2 separate regions of the Homo sapiens genome follow, and region 1 is linked to region 2. The links come from fine-mapping of genetic effects on gene expression. A gene starts in region 2. The other region holds a variant in brackets. All regions are shown on one strand. Distances are between the middles of the regions.

Region 1 (12,271 bases), 23 kb after region 2:
AGTTTTTTAGTTTGTATTCTTTGTCAGGTGTGGCCACTAAGTCTTTGGTTAGCTTAGTGGTCAGCTAGTGATTCAAAAGATTTCTTTGAACACTTGGAACAACAAAATGCCTCGTAGCATTTGCAGATGTGTTCTGTGTTGGGACACACCTTTCAACCTTCACCCATGCAGTTTATAACTATGCCTTAGCCTTCACTTCCTGCTTGCACGGAGCCTGAAGGTCAGGCAGAGGTGACAGCATAGGGCCCTCTCAAGTCTTTTTAAGCACATGCCCAGCCCTAGGCATGTGTATGGTCTTTCAGATTCCCAGGAATATGTGGAATCTCTTTAAAGTCCTTATTCTCACCCAAAGAATCTTATTTCCTAGCCTTTCCTCCTGAAGCTTTTCAATTTGTCTCCTGTTTGCTCCAAATGTTATTCCTTCCCCTAGGCATGAGCCACTAATACACTGACCTTGAAACGTCTTTCCAGGCTGCCATCTTCACTTTAGGAGAGCTCCAAATTAGGCAAAATAAAAGAAAGGCATTTGAACCAGTCCTTCAGGGAGCAACAAATCAAATCAAAATCAACATACTTCTTGAAAATAAGGTCTAATCTGCTACCTCCAGTGACAGGAACCTATACAGGGAATGAGGGATATTGTTTTTGATGCTGCTGCCATGCTGGGGAGTGGGGGATGGGGCCAGGGTAAGCTAAAACACAACAAAGCTCTCTTACTAAATCCAGCTTTTATTCTTAGGTATTCACCTGATTGCTGTAAACTTTCAATTCGTTTCCAGAGTTCCCATAAATTTGAGTTTTTGCCACCTTATTTGCTGCTTTTGTGGAAGGACAGACTTGTGGAATTTCCTATTCCATTTCGTTGACCACATTAAAGTTTTAGAAGCTCTCCTCTAGTCTACCCTTCATTTTAAAAAGTCAAAAAGACAGGAAGTGACATATCCAGGGTCACACAACAAATCAGGGGCTGAGCTGAGATCAGAATAAGGATGTTTGACTCTCAGGTCAGAGCTCTTTCTGCTTCAGGACTTCATCAGCTCTTAGTGTTGAGAAGGAGTCAGGCTCAAGCTAAACACCAATATTAGGCCAAGGGGCAGCTTTCCAAGGAGTAGGGGCTGAGGGTAAGAGTCCTTGGTATACCTGGTGGGCTTGACTGACTCCTTTACTGACAGGGGACCCTACATGAGTCCAGGTTGTGGACTGAGTAATGATGTCCCTATCCCTTAGAAAAACACAGGCAGAGAGCTTTCAGATTTGATGGGGGTGAAAATGTAAACCTTTATCTTTCTGAGGACATGTATTTAGCTTGATGTTTCTAGGTCTCATTCCACTCCATCTCGGCCAGGGCAGGAAAGAGCCTACAGCAGAAATAAGGAGCCAGGTCCTAAGGTAGGGCTGTAACTCCCTGCCAAGGCCAACAGAAAATGGGCATGGCATGGCATTAAACCACCACTTTGACCGTGGGCACCTGCAAAGGTTCATCTTTCAGCTCCCTCTTCCCAAAGCTAGGAGTGCCTCATCTCATCTCTCATCACCTGACTGAATTCCAAGCAGACTGTGCCATCTGCTCACCTGCCCTCTGGAGGAACACCTCTACTTTTGCGGTGTTCTCTGTGTGAGCACAGTAGTATTTAGATAAGCGTTAGATTACAGCAGGTTACAGATGCAGTTTCCCAGTCCCCACACCTGCTCAAAATGCATGAGGGTCTGACCGCAGGAACTGCTCTTTAGCAAGCTCCCCTGATGATCCTGATACACACTCAGGCTTGAAAACCACCACTTTAGGACCATCTACCCAGCCACAGGGTGAGCACTCCAAGGTTTCTTTCTTAAATTTTGCACCTGAGACAAATGCCACCAGGACTAGGGTGAGGCGAGTGAGGCTATCTGTCTCAGGTGCAAAACTATTTAATAGTGTTTCCTCCAGCGCCCCCACAGCTGCTGAAAATTCTCTCAGGGCTGAATTCATCTGGTGCTTCTATTTTAGAAGTCAGACTAGATGTGTAGCATGGACTGGCCTTGACTAACATATCCAGGAGGCAGGAGAAGACCCATTGTGTTCTATCCCAGAAAGATGACCTGTAAGGTTGCACATCTTTCTCCCTATCTTTTTTGTCCTAAGCATAATAAACAGTGTTGATCCCAACCTCCCACTGACCTTGGAAGGCAGTAGGTGCCTTTGCCTCTGGGAAGATCATGAGGCATTCATGCAGTCCTCCAGCCCATACTTAACATGGGTTGGATCTCTTGGGAGTGACCATGAGGGCAGCGAGAGGAACAGGAAGGCAGGGAGAAACAGGACTAGGACAAACACAGGTGTCAGGTCCACAACTATGCCAAATGTCATGCCCAGGGTCAGGTTCCAGCCCATGCTGAGGTTCGAGGGGACTGGGTGGATGGGCGATAGCTGAAAGAAAACCTGGCGGGCCATAGGCAGGTAAAATGTAGTTTTATTCAGCAGCTATCTCATCAGCAGCTCTCACACTGTCCACCTTTACCTAGGCTGTCTTCTCCAGATCTGCAGCTCCTCTCAGCAGCCAGCTCTGTGGCTCCTGCCACCCCCATGCTTGCAGGTGCACTCCCTGGCTACAGGGTCAGCGGCTTAACTCTCCCTCTGGGCACAAGCTGAGCCATGTCCTGGCTCCCCTCTATCTATCTGCCAGATGGTCACTCTCCCTTACAGGGGTCAATAGCTTCACTCTCTCTGGGTGCTAGTGCACACCACGTGGAGCCATGCCCATCCGAGCCCAAGAACATCTGTACAGCGTCAGCAGGGCAGTTATACCTTTTCCAAACAATAGTGGCTTTGAGCCAAGTATGAACTTACACAAGCAGGTTATATAACAAGTGGAGTATACGCCTGTGACCTAAACTCGCTGAGTCACTCTGGCCTGGATATCCACCTTGGTCTATTCCTTGACCAAAGCACATCCATGTACTTTACAACAGGTGGTCTCCAAGTGTGTAGACCAGGGTCTCAAACCCAAAGGCCTGCAGGAGCCAAATGGGTGACATGGGCTTAGTGTAATACAAGACGGAGCCTATAGCAAATAAGGAGTACAGGCCTAAAGGGGCAGCTGCAACTCAGCTCCAGCCATGCAGGAATGCAAGCCCCATAGTGCCAGAATTTCTGAGTTTTCAAGAGAAGCCAGAATTCCAGATTTTTAAAAATATGAAATCTCTCAATGTTTAAATGTTGGCAACAAATTCAAATGTCTAAAAACACTTTGGAAACCAAAGTAAATGTGTCTGTAGGTGCAATATTGCCTGCTGGGCACCAGGCTGGGAACTTTGGAGTAAACAGGGCAAGGTAATGTCACAGAATATGGTCACATCAGAGCACATTGGTTCTAGGCCCCATCACAATTCAGGAGGCCCCCAGGGTCACCTTGAGTTCATGGCAAGTTGTATATGCCAAGCACCCCATCCCATCAGGCAGGTCCCACCTGGCACCCAAGGGCAAGGGGCCTGCCCTAGCAGAGGAGTTCTTGGGAGAGCAGCAGGGATGGGGCTTCAGCTTGGGCTTGAGGCATGGACTCTGACGCAGAGCTGACGTGTTGACCAGGACCTGCCATCAATCTCAGGTAGACCAGGCTAGTTCTCAGCTCATGGCTGCTCCACACCCTTCGGATGTCATTCTTCCTTTATGTTTAGGGGGTAGTCCTCAAGCAAATGTCTGCAGATGAGCTACTCCCTGGGGCTCCTGCCAGGACCCAGCAGGCTTGATCTAGCCTAGTCTCTCTGGATTCTCCCATTTCTTTTTGTTTTTTTCTCATTTGAGACAAGGTCTCGCTCTGTTGTCCAGGCTGGAGTGCAGTGGTGTAATCACAGCTTACTACGGCCTCAATTTCTTGGGCTCTAAGGATCTTCCTGCCTCAGCCTCCAGAGTAGCCGACTATAGGGAATGCACTACAATGCCAGGTAAATTTTTTTTTTTTTTTGAGACAGAGTCTCACTCTGTCCACCCAGGTTGAAGTGCAATGGTGTGATCTCAGCTCACTACAACCTCTGCCTCCTGGGTTCAAGTGATTCTCCTGCCTCAGCATCCTGTGTAGCTGGGATTACAGGAATGTGCCACCATGCCTGGCTAATTTTTGTATTTTTAGTAGAGATGGGGTTTCACCATGTTGGCCAGGCTGGGTCTCGAACTCCTGACCTCAGGTGATCTGCCCGCCTCACCTCCCAAAGTGCTGGGATTACAGCCGTGAGCCACCACGCCTGGCCAAATTTTTTAGTAGAGACAGGGGTCTCGCTGTTGGCTAGGCTAGTCTTGAACTCCTGAGCTCAAGTGATCCTCTCACCTCAGCTTCCCAAAGTCCTTGGATTACAGGCGTGAGCCATAGTGCCTAGTCGATTCTCTCTTTTCTAAACCTCAACGCAGGAGGTTGGAAAAGGAGTGGGTGGAGACCCCTGATGCAAGGTAAGCTCTAGCTTCTGGACATGACACCATAATTCTCAGAAACTCTCTTATGGATTCTCTTCCCTCACACCACCAACCAACGGGCACAGGGTCCCCAGAGACCAGAGCCAGGAGCCCCTTTCAGCCTGGAGGCACCCTGAGGGGAGGCACTGGTCTTGTGACTCTCTGGGTTGTCCCCATCCTTCTCTCTGGCCCCCGCCGAGGGGCACCAGGAATTAGCACACACCCTTCTTCCCTCCTGGGACCTGGGTGAAGGACTGCATTCTTCGCACCACACCTTCAGTGGACTTCACTGCACCTGCAACCAACCAAGATCCCTTTGCCTTTCAGGTGTCTGGGCCTCCTGCCTGGATTTCGGGAACCTCCCTTCCCATGTCCTTACGAGTCCCTGCAAACTAGTGTATGCTCAGGGTTTCCTGCACACAAATCTCTACGTAAGGTTACATGAACTTTCACTGGCTGATAAGGCCAGACCTCTGAGCCACAGGGCAGAATCAAGCAGAAGAAAACAAGTTGGTACCAGGAAGACATTTCCAGACCATTCCAGAGCTGGCTGACTCTTAATGTGGAAACAAGTTTTGGCTACAGACATTCAGGTTTAAGGCACATACCACAAATTACAAGAAGCCCTGTCACTGACAGGGAACTGGCTTTGTTCTCGTGGTTTCTGCAAGGAAGATGGAAGGAATGACTTTCTGGCCCTTTTTTTTTGTTTTTTCTAAAAAGGAGTGAGTTTGGCAGTAACAAAGCTCGTGACACACTCACCAGATGCACAGGCTACCTTCTCAGGCACGCCTCCCTTTCTCTCCTCAGCGAGGACACGGTGCTTCA[C/A]CCACCCAGTCGCCCTCACCAGAAATGTGTATGCAGCAAACAGACTTGTATGCCTCTGTCTGGCAATGACTGTAAGAAAAGAAAATATGCCTCCAAATAAAAATATACAATTACATGACGAAATGAAGCCAAGTCTTAGCCACAGGCAAAGGGGAATGATTGCATGAGTCAGAAAAATGAAACATCTATTTTAGCAGCAAGAGGCTGTGAGGGATGGGGTAGAAAAGGCATCCTGAGAGAGTTCTAGACCGACCCAGGTCCTGTGGCACACTATACGGGTCAGGAGGGGTGGAAGACAGGCCTAAGCTCTAGGACGGTGAATCTCGGGGCTATTTGTGGATTTGTTAGAAACAGACATTCTTTTGGCCTTTTCCTGGCACTGGTGTTGCCGGCAGGTGGGCAGAAGTGAGCCACCAGTCACTGTTCAGTCATTGCCACCACAGATCTTCAGCAGAATCTTCCGGTAATCCCCTGAAGTATCTCCCTGGCCACAGAAACAAGGAAGACATCCGTTAAGGGAGGGACAGTCACTTTCAGCCTTCTGGGTCCTGATATTCAGCCCTGAGCACCCTTATAGGGAGAAAGCCCCACCCTGGGGAATTTTCTCCCACTGCAGGTCCTGCAGCAGGCGTCACAGACCTTAAAAAATGCAGTTCAGCCTTCTCCAGGCCCCCATCAGAAGACGGAAAGCAGCACTCACCCCAGCTATCCACATCAAATGAATACCCACAAAAAAAAATTATAATCATCCTAAAAACCACTTCCCAGGGCTAACCAATATTGCTGTTTTCCCAGTGCATTTATGCTGCCTTAAATTGGGGTTACCAATGTAACGCAACACAGTGTCCTGCTCAGGAAATGCAATCTCCTCACACATGACTGTCCAGTGGAAGGCTCAGACTGCCCAGGTCCCAGGGATCTCTCCTCTGTCTGAGGCCACTACACTTACTCTAAGAGTGCAGGCTCGGCTTGGCTCATTTCTAATCATTTCCTTCCACCCTAAGCAACTTGAGGGCAAGGCATGTGGCTTCTTCCAGATGTCCATAGCTTGCTGGCATGCAGGAGATACTCTGTAATGAATTATTAACTCTCTTTTTTTTTTTGAGACGAAGTCTCACTCTGTCACCAAGACTGAAGTGGAATGGCGTGATCCCAGCTCACTGCAACCTCTGTCTCCCGGGTTCAAGCAATTCTCCTGCCGCAGCCTACCTAATTAGCTGGGATTACAGGCAAGCCCAGCTAATTTTGTATTTTTAGTAGAGACAGGGTTTTACCTTGTTGGCCAGGCTGGTCTCGAACTCCTGACCTCAAATGATCCACCTGCCTCAGCCTCCCAAAGTGCTGGGATTACAGGCGTGAGCCACTGTGCCCAGCCTAGAATCACTAATTCTCTAACAACAGCTTCATTCATACAGCCAAGGAAACACAGTGAGTTTCCTGTGATGACATGCCCACCATCATCAAATGCTACTGAGTCTAAGGTGGGAGGACGTGGTCCCCATGGTGCAATTGCAAGGCTCATGTGAGTTCAGAATTTGAGCGTTAGACCACACAGCTGAGAATGTATTTTGTCAGACTGGCTCTGCCACACAGCGATACAACTGTGGCTAGTGTTTAATAGACACTTGACCTGCACTGCCTCACTCAATACTCACAACATTCCCAGGAAGGAACGATTATTTTCTCATCTTAAAGACAATGGAGCTGGGGTTCAGGGAGATTTAAGGGAGCCATTCAAGGTCACACAGTTAGCAAGTAGAAAAGCTGGACTCCAAGTGGCGTGACCCCCAGGGCCCTCGCTCTGAACGGCCTTACTATGTGGCCTACGCCATAAAGCTGAGTGCAGGAAGTGCTTTGTCAGGGAGTGACAGCAGAGCTCCACAGAGCCTTTGGGACATGAGTTCTCACTGACAGATCAAGGAATCACACGGTGATCGGAACGCTGAAGGTCACGGTCAAGGTTGGGGAGGTCCCGAGTGTTCTCTGATGCTGCTGGGGGATGCAAGGTGGGGGCGACAGCAAGGTCATGATCCACCTGCCCTCAGAAATTTATAATCTGTTTAAGGGCAAGGGGATGAACAAGTCCGAGGTCCATAATCAAGATGCCCACACACAGCACAGAGGCCAAGCATATGGCCACTCCAAGGAGGGAGGTTCCACAGGTGACTGAGATGCCAAAAGGGAGCCCAGTTGGCCTGCAGCAGGCCCGTACCGAGATGTCGTGGTACAGCGACTTGCCGTACATCCGCTTATACTCTGATCTGATGTCCAGGAGGTCGGTCTCGCTGCGAGACACCATGATGCGAATCAGGGTCCGGTCCTTTGTTCCTGCCCCCTAAAGAGAGTCCACCCAAGAGCATGAGCACCAGGCCTCCTCACCTTCCCACCTGCCCTGGGCCCTCCAGTCCCCTCCCTACCCAGGTCCTCGGAACTCTCAGCTGAGATTTAGCTCTCCCCAGGCCTTCTGCCCTCAGCCCTTGGTCCCAGGCACAGGCGAGGCTAAGGTTCCATCGCAACCTGCACATGGAAGTTACATACCCTCATGGCCTTGTTGAGCCTCTCCGCAAAGAAGGCTGGGGTATTCTTGAGACATTTCACTAGAAGAGAGAAACTCGGCATAACCAGATCTGCAGAAAATTCTCAGCCCAAGCAGGGCATGGAGTCTACAAGTGTCCTCTTAGAGGCCCAGATGTCAAACCCATCACTGCATCCATCTTTTCTCCTCCTCCTTCTGTTCCAGGCTCAACTATCCCATGATCTTGGCTCCAGCTATTTGGAACAGAAACACGCAAAGCCTGGAAACCAACCCACCCTCTTTCCTGGCAACCACTGCGGTGAAAGGACCAAGAGTCAGAGGGGCGGGGGTCTTAGTGGGGCTAGGAGCTACACAGGGAAGCAATGTGGATGGTGATGAGGAACTGTGCTGCTGCTCAGGCAGGAGGGGCAGACTGGAGAGGCCATGACCGTCATGGAGAAACCGTGGCTGAGTGGAATGTGCATCTCCCTAGGCTTCCCAGGCCATGAGACCTACTATGGGGGACAGGCAGGGAAATGAGGATTTTCCATCTCTCCCATCCAGAAAGCTCCAAAAAAAGCATAATGAAAAAAGGGGCAGACTGATTTTCCCAAGTGAGTAGAAAGAGGGGTTGTGAGGGCCTCAGGGCAGGGACCCAACTCTGCACAGTGGGAGGGCCCTGCTAGAGGACATGGGCAATGTAAGAGGCACACCACCATCCTGGAGCCAAGCCAGCTTTCCTCAGCATGGGCCTGTTTCGCTGCTGCAAGTAAAAATCTTTCCACGTGTTTCCATCACAAACATCTGACAACTGCCTGCAGGGATGTATTTTTAGAGGAAACGTGGCAGGATATGAGTCATACTCCTCCGGGAGCGCAGTTGGATGCCCTCCCACTAATACCCACACTGCAGTTCCCTACTCCAGAGCTGCACCGCAAACACACACAAGACACCTCCAGGACAGCTAGGGGTTCAACTGCACAGGGAACCGGGAAGCAGCATGACTTCCCAGCATCTGGACACTCTGGGCTGAGCGATCTTGGATCCTGTGGTCCCTTCACGGTGTCACCCATCAGCTGGAGGACAGGCGAGCAGCCTGAACACTCACGATACACGTTAGCCCCTGGCAGGTGGGCGGCAAACCTGAGACACTTACCCACGGCCAGCATGCCCTCCTCCAGGTCCCCGGACATCTCCCGGCAGATGCTCTTCTCAATGTCCCGGCCTGTCATTCTCTGGTACTCATTGAAAACTATGGGGATGACAGAGGCTTATATTATGAACTGAAATGTGTCTCCCCAAAGTTCATATGTGGAAGTCCCAACTCCCAGGACTTCAGAATATAACCGTGTTTGGAGATAAGATCTTTAAAGAGGTAATTAAGTTAAAACATGCTGCTAGGGTGTACCCTAATCCAATTCGCCTGGTCTCCTTAGAAGAAGAGAAGATTAGGACACACACAGAGATCCCAGGGATGTGCACATGCAGAGGAAAGACCATGTGAGCACAGTGATTGTCACGAAGAGGCCACGGGAGAAACCGGCACCCCACTCTTGGATATCTGGCCTTCAAAACTGTAACAAAATGAGTATCTGCTGCTTAAGCCACCCAGTCTGTGGTATTTTGTCATGGCAGCATGAGCAGACTAACAGAGGACTCACATGAGGTGGCCTCTGCCCCAAAATCTCCCACCTGCCACTCTGCTCCCACACCCTGCACGTCCCCAGGCCTGCTAGCGCTCAAGGAAGTCAGAGTCTTCGTCACAAGTTACATGCACCACCTGATGTCCCTCCCTGTGTGGTCCCTTTCTCAGGACTGCCAATCTGCTTAACCAAATCGCACCTTAATACCCCTCCAGGGCCCACTCCCATGTACTCCAAGACAGTGTCCCCTCTTCTCAAATCCTCCACACCTCCAGTCTCTGCCATTCCTTGGCTTTATTCATGCATCCATCTGTCTTCCTCAGCCTGCCTGTGAGCTGAGGCCCAGCCTGCCCCAGCCAGCCTGGCTTCTTGCTGCTCACCTCGACCTAGGACACGCTAAGCACCCACAGGAGTGGATGGCTGGCTCCTAGAGAGACAGGTGGCATGATGGAGACCTTGGTCCTGACTCCAGTTCTGACCCAGGACATAAAACTCTCCTTCCCCAGCCTGAGTCTCAGCTACCATTTGCATTTTAAAGTTGTGATTTCTGCTCTGTGTGTATCTGTCTCAATTAATATCTTCTTCCAATCAGCTACTCTTTTCTCCTAAGTAATAATGTTTGTGAAGCCATGGGCTTGATGCACTACTTACATGTTCTGTACTCATTAAAAGAAATAATGATTAAGATGAAAATGCTTTCACTCAGGCTCCATTACAGGATAGTGCAGAGGTTAAAAAGTGTGCTCTGGGGTCGGGTGGTCTGGGTTCAAATCCCAGCTCAGCTGTTACTAGCTGTGCACCCCTACTTCCTCTACCACCCTGTGCCTGCTTTCACAGCTGCGAATGGGGAGAGCCACAGCGCCTGTCTCTGTGTGCAGCACAGAGCGGTCGCTGGGTTTTCACCCTCACTGCCCACTGGAGCAGCCCTGGCCACAGCCCACCAGTTGCTCCGTGTGGTCACCATCCTCAGTCCTTGCCTGCCACCTCACACTGGCCTCCAGGACCCCCTTCCTCTGCGTCCTCCTCCCTCCCTAGCTGCTCCTTCTTAGTCTCCTCACACCGGTGGGCTCCCCACAGTCTCCCTCCTGAGGGGACCTCCTGCAGTCCCAGAGCCTCAGATAACTTCAACTACCCATAGCTCCCTTACCTTCCACAACCAGGCCAGACCTCTCCTGACCTCCACACTCAGCAACCCAGCAGCCTCCCTGCAGCTCCACCCTACAGGCACCTAAAGCCAGCTCCACCTACAGTCCCCCTGTCTCAGTTGAGGGCCATTCTCCCACTGCTTGGCCTAAAGAAACCCTGTATAATCCTCGAACCCTCTCTCTCCCACACGTCACGTGTCCAATTCATCAGCAAACATGGCCGGAACCTGACACCTCCTCACCACAAGCCCCTATTACCACCATTCCTCCCCGGGTCCCTGCAGCAGCCTCCCGACAGGCTTCGCTGCTTGGCCTTGCACCCTTCACTCCATTCTCGGCACCACAGCCAGGGATTCTGCACAGCCTCCTCTGCTCAGGGCCCTCCACTGGCTTCCTCTTTTGCTCAGGATAAATACCCAGCTCCGGGAAGTCATCAGCAGGGCCCTCTCCCCTCTCTGCCCTCACCTCCCACTCCTCTTGCTCACTCCACCTGCTCCACATGGTCCCCCTTCACTGTTCTCAGTCGTGCTGGGAGCCCCAGGCAGGCCTCTGCCCCTGCATCTCCCTTTAGGTTTTTAAATCAAATGTCACGACCTCAGTGGGGACTGGCCCAAGCACCTCCCGGTGGACCCTACCATCACTCCCTACCTGTTTCCAGCTTGATTTTCCTCTACAGGATTTCCCATCTGATACAGATTTTATTTCATTGTTGTTTACTGTCTGTCTCCCCAAATGAGAAAGTGCAGCCCATGGAACACACTCTGCAGTGCCCTGCCCCCCACCGTGGCCCCACACCTGCTCCACCACCTGACAGACTGACCCATGCGGGAGCGCGATTTACATCTGTTGAATGAATGAGTAAATGAATGGCACCCAGTTTTATTGTTATGACTGTTTCTTATGCCAGGCTTTGGAAAACACTGGATTGGGTGCTCCCGAAGGACCCTCCCAACTCTGACGTTCCACATTCCCACGTACAAAGACACCAGGTTTCTACACCGGTAGAACCTCCAGAACTGGATGTTTGCCAGAACTCAGGAAACCCTCTGACAGTGTCTTTTAAATTCCCACCAGGGGGCTCTTTTGAGGAGGCGAAAGCCCCACGCAGGGAGGAACGACCAAGTGTTCCCATAGCTTTGTTTCCCCACAATCCCCTGACTGCCCTCATCTAACTGGCCTCTGAGGGACCCCAGCCTGCCTTACCTGCTACCAGGTGGGCCCGGCTCCGGGAGCACAGAACCGCATTGAACTTGGACTCGTCTGTTCCCAGGCGGTTCTCCCCGGCCGCATACAGCTCCTGGAGAGAGAGGAAGACGCACATGTGGCACAGGCCACACCCAGACCCCAGGCCCAGGTCACCCAGGAGAGCCTGGTAAACTTCTGAAGGTTTGAGCCTAAAGTATTTGCCAATTTGCAACCTCTGAACTAGATGGCCTCTAAAGTGCCTGCTAGGCCTCAGGTAGCAGCCCTGAAAAAGAGCAGAAAGCAGCAATCAGGGGCTGAGATCCCACAGGTCAAGATGAGGCCAAAGCAGCTCTGGACTGAGAAGGCAGAGCATGAGACAATTTTTGCCCCGCTAAAAGTGGCATGCAAAACTCTCGCTGGAGCAAAAGCCAGAGCCCTGAGCCCCAGGCGTGTCCAGCCCTGACTCCCAGAATGGGAATGGATGTTACCAGCCAGAGAGACACTGAATAAGGCAGACCCTGCAGGAGCAGCA
Region 2 (12,271 bases):
GGATTGGGAGAGCAAGCCCCTGCCAGATTTCCCACCACTTGTGCCCCGGCCCAGCCAGGCTGGGAGGACCTGAGCACATCCTGTAGCATTGCCTGTGGAGGCAGTACAGGTGCCTGGGAGGCAAATCCCTAACTAGTCTCTGTGTGCCCTGGGCCCACCTCCTAACTTCTCCAAGCCTTACATTCTGTATGCTCCCATGACCCTGGCAGGTAGCCTCACAGTCCACGCAGATTGTGACGGTATCTGCCAGGGTCATGGGAGCATTAAGTGAAAGAGAAACGTCTGCACATTAGGGCACTTCATTCATGCAGGTGGTTATGAGCGTTCTCCCCTAACTGCACAGGGCTTGCCACTCTGCGCCCCCCATATCCCATTCATCCCTTTCTCACCTCCACTCTTCAGATTCTCTATTTAGTGCCTTTCCTGGGACTTCAGAGTCAAGAGGCCTGATCATGCAGAGGACCATGAATTTTGGAATCGGATCCACCTAGCTTCCAAACTGGGATCTGCCACCCTCTACTCTTGAATCAGATATACTTAATAGATCTTATTTTTTTAAATGGGGATAAGGATATCTACTTGATAGGTTTACTGATGCAAGGATTAAATAGGGTAATGCATATACAGCCTTAGCACAATACCAGGTTCAGAGAAGTTTAGCAAATAATAGAATAATAATAAATAATAAGAGGTATGACTAGATCCAGCTGGCTACCCACCTTGCTTTGAGGCCTGGTATATGGTTGGCATATTTCTCTAGTTCCTGCCACTGATGCCGGTCTCCCCTATCTTTAATTTCACTGGTCACTTTCAAGAATATTGGAAGGAGGAGGTTTGTCAACTGGGTCCACTGGCTCCATACTATCATTTTGCCCAGGAGTTTCCCTTTACATGTTTGGGCCAGTTTCTGTTGGTATACAGAAATAAATTGATTTCCAAACACTTATCTTAATTTTTTTTTTTTTTTTGAGACAAATTCTCACTCTGTCGCCCAGGCTGGAGTGCAGTGGCACGATCTCGGCTCACTGAAACCTCCGCCCCCTGGGTTCAAGCAATTCTCCTGCCTGAGCCTCCCTAGTAGCTGGGATTATAGGCGTGTGCTACCACGCCTGGCTAATTTTTGTATTTTTAGTGGAGACAGGGTTTCTCCATGTTGGCCAGGCTGGTCTCGAACTCCTGACCTCAAGTGATCCACCTGCCTCTGCCTCCCAAAGTGCTGGGATTAACAGGCATGAGCCACTGCACCCAGCCAAACACTTGTTGATAGTGGCATCTTTTTTTATTTTTTAAATTTTTAATTTAATTTTAAGTTTTTAAATTATTTATTTATTTTTTAGAACAGTGTCTCACTCTGTCACCCAGGCTGGGGTGCAGTGGTGTGATTATAGCTCACTGCAGCCTCAAACTACTAGGCTTAAGCGATCTTCCTGCTTCAGCCTCCCCAGTAATAGGTGTGTGCCACAACGCCCCGCTAATGTGTGTGTGTTTTTTTTAATTTTTAGTAGAGATGGGATCATGCTGTGTTCCCAAGGTTGGTTTCAAACTCCTGGGCTCAAGTGATCCTCCCACCTTGGCCTCCCAAAGTGCTGGGATTATAGGCATGAGCCACCATGCCTGGCCAATAATGGCATCTTTACCTCATTCCTGATTTAATAAAGAATACATTTCTCCTTTCTCTGTTATGTACAGATGAACTATTTAAGATAAAAGTAGTTGGCGGGGCATGGTGGCTCATTCCTGTAATCCCAGCACTTTGGGAAGCTGAGGCGGGAGGATTACTTGAGCCCAGGTGCTCAAGACCAGCCTGGGCAACACAGCAAGACCCCTCGTCTCTATTTTTATTATTTTTTTAATTTGAAAAACTATAAATATAAAAATTAAAGGTAGTTATCTTGTTAAGGAAATGTCCCATTATTTCCTTTATTTTTATCCTAAGTTTGTTGTTATTACTGTTTTTAAGTTAGGGAGGCCTGTTTAATTTCATCAAATATGGTTTCAGTATTTATTGAAATTATATGTCTGTTTTGCATTTTTGTTTCCTTGACCTTGTGACAGACATGATGTAGAGAGATTTTCCCAGAACTCCCCTCGGAAATGAGTAGCTAGCCAACTACTTTATGTTCAAAGTAGTGGTAAAAGGATGGACTAGGCAATAAAGAGCATTAGGACATTTAGATACCCATTTAGGGAAAAATTTAAGTTTGATTCCTTCCTTGCAACCACATAAAAATTCTAGATGGATTAGACATTAGACCTTGAGAAAACCTTAAAACTGTTTGAAGGAAACATAGAAAAATATCTTTACAGCCTTGATTCGAGGAATCATAAGCAAGTTGTAAACTCTATAAGCCATAAAAGAAAATATTGGGAGGCCGAGGCGGGCGGATCACGAGGTCAGGAGATTAAGACCATCCTGGCTAACACGGTGAAACCCCGTCTCTACAAAAAATACAAAAAATACAAAAAATTAGCCGGGCGCGGTGGCGGGCGCCTGTAGTCCCAGCTACTCGGGAGGCTGAGGCAGGAGAATGGCGTGAACCCAGGAGGGCGGAAGTTGCAGTGAGCCGAGATAACGCCACTGCAGTCCGGCCTGGGCGAAAGAGAGGGACTCCGTCTCAAAAAAGAAAAAAAAAAAAAAAAAAAAAGAAAAGAAAATATTGAGAGATTTGGCTACCTAATATTTAAAACTTCTGAATGATGAAAGACACCACCAAGAAACTTAAATATAATGGAAGGCTGGAAGAAGACATTGCCAACATATATAACAGGCATTGCATTAATAATCAGAGTATATAAAGGAAAGGGAGGAAAATAGAAAAAAGTAATCGAAGAAGCAAATAAAGCTTAACCTCACTCATAACAAGTAGCATGTAAATAACAATAACAACAAGGTAACATTTTCCATCATCAAGCTGTCAAAATTTTAAATAATAAATATCCAGTGTTGGAGAATGTAGGTGACTGATAGGTTTACACTTCAGGTATCTCCAATCCAGAAGGGTTTTTTTTGTTTTTTTGTTCTGTTTTGTTTTTGAGACGGAGTCTCACTCTGTCACCCAGTGCAGTGGGTGACACTGCAGGAGTGCAGTGGCGCAATCTCGGCTCACGGCAAGCTCCGCCTCCCGGGTTCATGCCATTCTCCTGCCTCAGCCTCCCGAGTAGTTGGGACTACAGGCGCCCGCCACCACGCCCGGCTAATTTTTTGTGTTTTTAGTAGAGACGGGGTTTCACCATGTTAGCCAGGATGGTCTCAATCTCCTGACCTCGTGATCCACCCGCCTCGGCCTCCCAAAGTGCTGGGATTACAGGCGTGAGCCGCCGCGCCCAGCGCAGAAGTATTTTATGTAAATGGCGCCCCCTGCAGCCCAATTCCTACCTAGACTAACATGCTCAGGTGCACCTTGGAACAGCGCTGGAAGACCCCTTGCCCCTCCTGTGGGCTTAGTAACAATTTGGGGAACAGTTTTTGGCCTATCTGGCAAAATGTAAAAGGCCTTTGACGCAATGATTCCTCTTCCAGCCTTTCAGAAATATGTACATACAGGAATATGTACTACGTACATGAAGATATATGCAAAGGAATGTTTATTAAAGCTTATTTTATATTGGAGAGAAAAAGGAAGCAATCTACATGTCTGTCAATAGGGGACTGTTTGGATAAATAATGCTCCTTGTATCCATTCATGGGATATTTTAACTCTTAAAAGGAATGAAGTGGATTTATCTGTACCCACATAGACTGATCTCCAAGATTATTTTCTTTTATTTTAAGATGGAGTCTTGCTCTGTTGCCCAGGCTGGAGTGCAGTGGTGCAATCTTGGCTCACTGCCACTTCCGCCTCCTGGGTTCTGATTCTCCTGCCTCAGCCTCCTGAGTAGCTGGGACTACAGGCGCCCAACACCACGCCCTGCTAATTTTTTGTATTTTTAGCAGAGACGGAGTTTCACCACGTTGGCCAGGTTGGTCTCAAACTCCTGGCCTCAGGTGATCCACCCACCTCGGCCTACCAAAGTGCTGGGATTACAGGCGTGAGCCACTGCACCCAGCCAAGATTTAATGTTATGACTGAGATAAACATGAATGAAAGCAAATCTTCAAAATATCTATGACTTGATCTCATGTATATACATTTGTGTCTGAATATACATTAGGTAGATGGGGAATGCATAGACGTGGAACAGGCAGAGCCTACCAAGTTGAGGGGACTGGACCTGAATCATTGGACGGAGGGAATTCGTAACAGAAAAGACTTTCATGTTTTACTCTGTATACTTAATTACTTTATGCTCTACCGCAACAATAATGTATTGTATATGTTTTTGTGTGTGTGTGTGTTTTCTTAGTCTTAAATTCAAAATATAAGGTAGCCCACTGGCTCTAAGCTACAAGAATCCTTATGAGTTGGGCAGTTCTTTGACAACTTTTTTTCCCACCTGGCGAAACTATCAAGGAATGTCCTACCACCAAGCGTGAGAAATTTTTGGCATTCCTGAAATAAATTCTTCTTCTGAGCCAGCTCATGTGGGCATCATAATCTCCTTGAAGGCTTTTAAAAGATTTAGATCTGAGTCTGTCTCAGATTCTCGGGCTCAGAACCAGAATTTCTCCGTCTGAGGCTACTATCTTGCTCTGGAGGAGGGAGTGAGAACTGGATCACTGGTTAGCGTGGTAACTGTTTTGGACAATTGCATAGCCACAGCCAGGAACACAGAAGGCAGAGAGGCAGCCTTGATCTGCAAGAGCTCCAGGTAATCCCAACGGGGACCCTTGATGGACAAAGGCATTCTCCCAGGCTTGGTGATGAATGTGTTCCACTTACAGCCAGACGAGACACTCACTCAGGGCTCTGCAGCAGAGAAGTTAGAGCTACAGCTTTTTTGCTTTGTGTTTTTACTAAAACTTAATTTGTTGTTGCACTTGTTGGATGGGCATGTCCCATAGGGGAAGTTTCCACTACTGTGCTCTAAACTTTGGGCTGCTTGTACCATCTTACTTATCCCCTCATTAATAATGAATTGAATAAAATCTTTAGTATATGCTAATTTCATATCTTTGCGAGAGTTACGATTTTACCTTTTCTTTTTAAAATTACCTTTTCATATTTCTATCACTCCCTTACCAGAGCAGTGAGTTTCTGGGTCTCCCTCTTAGGGGCAGACACTGTTCCATGTAATTAGAATTAATTTCTTGTTCGTAGGTAGACAGAGAAAAGCTGCCAAACTCCCAGGAGACAGGGGTTCAGATCCTGTGCTATGGCTGAGAGTGATGCCGAGGAAGACACTTCCCTCCGAGTCTTAGTCTGCCCGCCTGTGAAACTGGCTCGTAACAAACCCCTGACCCCAGGCTCGGTCGCCTTGAGCCCAAGACCTCACCCAATGCCCCCCGCCCCGCCTTCCCTCCCGGGCTCCCAGGAGGTGCGGGGACTCGGGGGGCGGCCCCTTCCTCGGGAGGCGCCCAGGTGGCACGTCGGTGCCTCAGCTCCCGGGGTCTCTGGGCTCCGCGCTGCCCACGGGGTGCCGAGGGGCCTCTGGAGGGGGCGGGTTCTCTCGAGCCAGAAAGTCCGGAGCCGCCCAGGAATTTTGGCTCGAACTGAGTGCATTTCCTCTCGGGCCGGCCGGGTGCGATCCGGGAAGGGCGGCTGCGGGCAGACGCGGCGCTGCGCTCGGCCAGGCCGGCACCATGCGGCCCCTGCTCTGCGCGCTGACCGGACTGGCCCTGCTCCGCGCCGCGGGCTCTTTGGCCGGTGAGTGGGGCGCAGGGCGCGGCAGGGGACCTGGAGCCGGGGAGACCCGCAGATGGCGAGGAAGGAATGAGCGAGAGAGACGGAGAGAGAGCTGGACACAGCAGCGAGATGGACAGAGAGGCAGATGCAGGGAGGGAGGGATGGAGAGAAAGATTGAGAGGAAACAGACTCAGAAAAAGGCAGAGAAGTAGAGCAACGGAGAGATAAAGGAGATAGGGAAGAATACACAGTGAAAAGGAAAAAGGAGAGGCTGAGACAGAAAGAGGCTTCCCCTGAACAGATATGAACTAAGATAGAAAGAAAAAGGAGTTTGAGAGACAAAAGAGAAGAAGGAAAGAGAAAAAGTGATTAAAATGGCAAGGGGTGGAGGGAGAGAGGATATTGAAGAAAAGAGAAAGATTTGAGAGAGACCAAAAAGGAGAGAGAGGGAAGCTCGATGCCCGGAGTAGAGCTGGCAAGAGAGAAGGAGCCAGGATCTGGAGTGGGAGGTCACAGCTGCTGGGTGGGGCAGCCCCGGAGGCCAGCTCCATCTCAGAGGGCCTGTGGAGGCTCAGGCCTGGCTTTATAGGACATTGCATAAGAAGCCACACTCCAAAGGATGAGTGACCCAGGCTAGCCCAGCACAGCCTTAAGGAACCAGGCAGTCGGGCCCAGGAGAAAGGCCACCGATTCACCTGCCAGGTGGCCTCAGGTGGATCTGCAGTCAGTGAAGAAGTCAGCCTCCCGGTTTCCAGGGAGCTTCTCTGGGAAACTGAGCTATGTTGGGTGGAGATGGGGGACTGGGTGGAGGTGGAGAGCTGTGCGGAGGAGAGAGGCTGTCTGGGTACTCCATTAGCTGGGTTCCTTGCTTTTCACTGTCCGCTTTCTTCCCCTCACCTACCCCTCAGGCGGGCGGATCACAAGCTCAGGAGATCAAGACCAGCCTCGCTAACATGGTGAAATGCTGTCTCTATTAAAAATACAAAAAATTAATCGGGCGTGGTGGCACATGCCTGTAGTCCCAGCTACTCGGCAGGCTGAGGCAGGAGAATCACTTGAACCTGGGAGGCGGAGGTTGCAGTGAGCCGAGATCAAGCCACCGCAATCCAGCCTGGGTGACAGAGCAAGACTCAGTTTCAAAAAAAAAAAAAAAAGAAGAAGGAAAGGAGGAAAGTATTCATGTATTAGTGTAATTTCACACTGATTTCATATATTTTTGTGCATAATCTTTCAGATTTTAGATGATATATCTTAACTTTTGATTATGAAAACTTTTGGATACAAAAAAATACAAAGTAATAGTATGTGAAAGAATCATGTAATATACTTATCAACGCTGCTTCAAGAAGTATCAGTTCATGGGCAGTTTTATCTCATCTATAGCCTCCACCCTCTCTCCCCTCCCTGGATTATTTTAAAGGAAATCCAGGCATTGTATATTTTCTTTCTTTCTTTCTTTCTTTTTTTTTTTTTTTTGAGACAGGATTTCATTCTGTCACCCATGCTAGAATGCAGTGGCACAATCTCAGCTCACTGCAACCTCCGTCTCCCGGGTTCAACTGATTCTCCTGCCTCAGCCTCCTGAGTAGCTGGGACTACAGGCACGCACCACCACACCTGACTAATTTTGGTATTTTTAGTAGAGATAGGGTTTCACCATGTTGGCCAGGCTGGTCTCGAACTCCTGGGCTCAAGTGATCCACCTGCCTTGGCCTCCCAAAGTGCTGGGATTACAGGTGTGAGCCACAATGCCTGGCCTGGCATCATGTATTTTCATCTATAAATATTTCTTTGTGTACCTCTAAGAGATAAGCACTCTTAATAAACATAACTGCAATGCTATGATCATACTCCAAAAACTGTGTGTGATTGAATATCATTAAATATTCAATCACTGTTCAAATGTCCTTGATTGATTGTGTCATATCTTTTTGCAATTCATTTGTTTGATCCAAATAAGGTTACATACACTGCATTTGGTCAATATGTCTGTTAGATCTCTTTAAATATGTAAGTCTTCTCTCCCCTTTTTTTACTTAATTTTTTGTTTTTGTTGAAGAAACTAAGTTTGTCCTGTAAAGTTTTCCACATTTAGATTTTGCTAATTGCATCCCTTTTATGTCATTTAAATACCTCCACCCCTTATATTTTCTATAAATTGAGAGCTATCTCTAGCACGTCCAACTTCCAACCTTGGTTTGTTTGTTTGTTTATTTATTTATTTATTTATTTGAGATGGAGTCTCGCTCTGTCTCCCAGGCTGGAGTGCAGTGGTGCGATCTCCGCTCACTGCAAGCTCCGCCTCCCGGGTTCACACCATTCTCCTGCCTCAGCCTCCCAAGCAGCTGGGACTACGGACGGCTGCAACCATGCCCGGCTAAATTTTTTTTGTATTTTTAGTAGACATGAGGTTTCACTGTGTTAGCCAGGATGGTCTCGATCTCCTGACCTTGTGATTTGCCCGCCTCGGCCTCCCAAAGTGCTGGGATTACAGGTGTGAGCCACTGCGCCCGGCCTTTTTTTTTTTTTTTTTTTTTTGAGACAGAGTCTTGTTTTGTCATCCAGGCTGGAGTGCAGTGGTGCGATCTCAGCTCATCACAACCTCTGCCTCCTGGGTTCAAGCAATTCTCGTGCCTCAGTCTCCCAAGTAGCTGGGATTACAGGTGTGCACCACCACACCCAGCTAATTTTTGCATTTTTTAGTAGAGACGGGGGCTGCGGGGGAGTTTCACCATGTTGGCTAGGCTGGTCTCAAACTCCTGACATCAAGTGATCAGCCTGCCCCGGCCTCCCAAAGTGCTGGGATTACAGGCATGAGCCACCGCGCTGGGCCCAAGTCTTGGTTTCTTTTAGCAGCACTCAGAGAAACCTTTATCCCTGATGGCTTTTTAGACCATGAGCCACCACGCCCGGCCCATATTTTGGAGTTTTTTATAAAATCACTTGAAGAATAGTTTTCTGCTGCTTTCAAAAATGATCAAAACCCGTGGATGGTTTTGAGTGAATCATACATTTTAATACAAATATTGGATGTGGTAAATTTATTATTCTATTATGTTGAATGTGGTCAAATATAATTAACCCCCAAGTGGCCAGGGTTGCTTTTCAAAGCAGAGTGTGACTTTGACAATTCAGAAGATACAGCGGCACCTTTCAGATGCCACTGAGAAAACATTTCTCAACCCCCAGCATGCAGAAATCATCTGTGTTGTGGCCCTTTCTTACTGTTTGGGTCCAGATACAAAAGGTCTCCCCATAAGGCCTGTAAGTAGAAGCACCCGTACTTCCGCCTCAGAGGATGGGACCCAGGGGCCACGTCTCTTTAACTGGGGCAGCCAGCCCAGCCGAGCCCTCCTCTGGGGCCTCCGGGCTCCACAGCAGCGTGTTCTCACCAGCACAGGATGCCCCACCCATGGCCACCATCCAGGGTGCACATCAGGCCCCTAGCAGGAGCCGGGCCAGAGAAAACAACGCAGCATCCAAGGAGGTCCATTTCCCAACTGGCAGGGCCTGGGAGAGCGGGAGGAAAGGAAGGAAGGGAGCCCTGAGGAGCCACAGCCTTGGCTGCTCAGGGTTAATCATCATAATCCTTCAGTCTTTTCCACTCCCCTTGTCTGAGCCACTGACAGCCCTGTGGTGCATGTGCGTGTCTACTATTTTTTATTCATTTATTTATTTTCTTACAAGACACAGTCTTTCACTGTCACCCTGGCTGCAGTGCAGTGGTGCAATCGTAGCTGACTGTAGTCTCAAACTCCTGGGCTCAAGCGATTCTCCCGCCTCAGCTTTCCAAATACCTGAGACTACAAGTATATACCACCAATCCTGGCTAATTTTTTTTTAATTTTTATTTTATTTATTTATTTATTTATTTATTTATTTATTTTTGTAGAGACAGAGTCTCACTATGTTGCCCAGAGTGACCTCAAACTTCTGGCTTCAAGCGATCCTCTTGCCTCAGCCTCCTAAAGCTCTGGGATTACAGGTGTGAACCACCGAGCCCAGCTCGTCTAGCTAATTCTTGAGGCCTCTCTGCAGCCTCCAAAAGACAGAAGAATTAAGGATGCGCTACACGGGGGAGTCAGGGCCTCAGGCCTACCCTACCCCATTTTATGTAAGAGGCAGCAGAGGCTCAGGGAGCAGAAGAAACTTTCTCACAATCCCACAATCATTAGTGGCTGAACCAGGCTGAGAAAAGGGGTCTCCAGCATGTTTTCTACCATGATGCGTTCAAGTCAGCGCTGTGGTGAGGATGCTGGCAGTACAATGTCAGGCCCTGCTCCAAGCTTGCTCTCTCAGATGCACTCTGTGGAGGCCCCGATGAGCTCACGGACAGTTGCTCCAGGGTGCACAAAGCACAGTTTTGTCCAGATGTGAAGGATTAGTGCTGAGCCATGTTGGGAGCGACCTCAGCCCAGCCTTTTCCCTGGAGGGGTTTTGGAGCCAAGTTAGACCTCATCACAGACACGTAGAGAACAGGGTGGTTTAGGCCAGTGGAGGGGAGCAGGCTCTGGTTGTTCTGACTTCCAAAGCAGCCAGACTCCCATTTGGCTGGCAGGGTCACACTGCATCCCCCTGGCCTGAGCCTTACACGGGAGAGTGGCTAGGGTCTGGGAGAGGGCAGGTGAGCCTCAGAGAAAAGGCTTGGCCAAAGGCCTCTGGACAGAGCCAGCAGGGGGGTATGTGTATCCACAGACTCATGACAACAGGCCCTCCCCTAGGACGGCCACTCTGTGGGTGACAACAGAGGCCCCCTCAGAGCTTTTCCTCTCCAAGCTGAGCAGCCCAGTTTCAGCTGAGAGAATTGAGTTAAAATTTGGAGTCCCAGACTGGGTGCGGTTGTTCACTCCTATAATCCCAGCACTTTGGGAGGCCGAGACAGGCGGATCACTTAAGCCCAGGGGTTTGAGCTTAGCCTGGGCAACGTAGTGAAATCCTATCTCTACAAAAAATACAAAACGTAGCCAGGCATGGTAGTGTGTGCCTGTAGTCCCAGCTACTCTGGAGGCTGAGGTGGGAGAATTGCTTGAACCCGGGAAGAAGAGGTTGCAGTGAGCCATGATTGTGCCACTGCACTTCAGCCTGGGTGACAGAGTGAGACCCTGTCTAAAAAAAAAAAAAAAAAAGAGGAGTCCCTTCCCATAGCCTCCTCTAGACCTGCTCCTGCCTCTCAAGGGCCTTCTCAGGATGTGGGGCCAGGATGGAGCATAGCCCCCAGGGGCCTCTCTCTCTCTGAATATTTTACATGAATGCCTGCAGCCCACAATGGCTGCTGCTTTCTGCTGACAACCTCGTCAGACAGCCAGCTTTTGTTATGGAACATTTCAAATCGTGCACACAACAGTAGACAGAATCGCTGAATGCACCCCCATTTGCTCATCACCCAGCTTCAACAATCAGCAACTCTCAGCCCATCCTGTTTGCTCTAAACATCCACGCATGCCTCTCCACCATCCCCACTGAGGCCTGGATTATTTACTTTGGAAGTAAATCCAAGACAGCACAGCCTTTCATCTGTAAATATTTCAGTATAGGTCTTTAAAATACTTGCATTAAAAAAATAACCAAAGGGCCATTATAATGTCCTCCTCCCTCCCCAGATTCAGCAATAACACCATTATCTTTTGAAGAGTATTTTCTAAGTTCAGTGGAGGGAAATAATGAAAAGGATAATTTGGAAAACAGATTGTTCTCCACAAAAGATGCTCAGAGTGGAAGGACATTTTGTCTCTGGTCCTGTTCTCATCTCTGAGTGGAAGTGCTGAGAGCTAGATAGAGTTGGAATCAGAAAATCACAGGGCAGGGGGTCCCCACCTTGCTGAGATGAGAACAGGAGGTCAGGGTGCCTGAGGTCCAGGCATTTGCAGATGGTGTGACCTTGGGGAAATCACTCAGCCTCTCAGAGTTACACATCCATCATCAGCTCTGTCCTACCTCAAGACCTGCCCCACTTCTAGACAACTGCAGATGGCCCCTTGGCCAACCCATCCAATACCAAGGCCTTACAGCTACAAGCATTGCACGTAGAGAGATCAAGTTCCATAACTCCCCCTATTGAGCTTTGGATGCCCGCATCCATGGCCACAGCCTTAATATTGTCACTCTCTGAAGCTGCTCGACCTCTAAAAGTTAAATTGCAATATTCCTTTTTTTTTTTTTTTTTTGAGACGGAGTCTAGCTCTGTCACCCAGGCTGGAGTGCAGTGGCGCGATCTCCACTCACTGCAAGCTCTGCCTCCCGGGTTCACGCCATTCTCCTGCCTCAGCCTCCCTAGTAGCTGGGACTACAGGTGCCCACCGCCACGCCCGGCTAATTTTTTTGTATTTTTAGTAGAGACGGGGTTTCACCGTGTTAGCCAGGATGGTCTCGATCTCCTGACCTCATGATCTGCCCGCCTCGGCCTCCCAAAGTGCTGGGATTACAGGCGTGAGCCACCGCGCCTGGCTAAAATTGCAACATTCTTTACCTCTTGTTCCTCCTGTGATTCCTAAGACCTCCAGTCTCTTCAGCCCCCATTTCTCCCAATTCATTGGCCCTCTTCTTGGCCT

Which allele goes with the higher level. Positions count from the first base shown, and alleles are read on the strand shown. Sizes are in standard deviations (SD) of each study's normalised expression.
For the expression in whole blood of the gene that starts at base 5,648 in region 2, allele C in region 1 goes with a lower level than allele A (small effect, 0.34 SD a copy in GTEx).

Evidence for each region.
Region 1: its variant is fine-mapped to the expression of PLAC9 in whole blood (GTEx, PIP 0.94).

What each region holds. Positions count from the first base shown.
Region 1 is chr10:80,150,178-80,162,448 of GRCh38, forward strand. It overlaps ANXA11 (annexin A11), which reads right to left. Exons shown (of 16, transcript NM_145868.2): 12 at 11,758-11,851; 13 at 8,923-9,018; 14 at 7,790-7,848; 15 at 7,464-7,586; 16 at 712-5,735. The coding sequence ends at 5,676. Among named protein-coding and RNA genes, the nearest start is that of PLAC9, 24 kb to the left of the region's middle. RefSeq lists enhancers at 8,005-9,204, 8,302-8,843. The variant C/A (reference allele first, on the strand shown) is at 5,252.
Region 2 is chr10:80,127,083-80,139,353 of GRCh38, forward strand. It overlaps PLAC9 (placenta associated 9), which reads left to right and starts at 5,648. Exons shown (of 4, transcript NM_001012973.3): 1 at 5,648-5,744. The coding sequence starts at 5,681.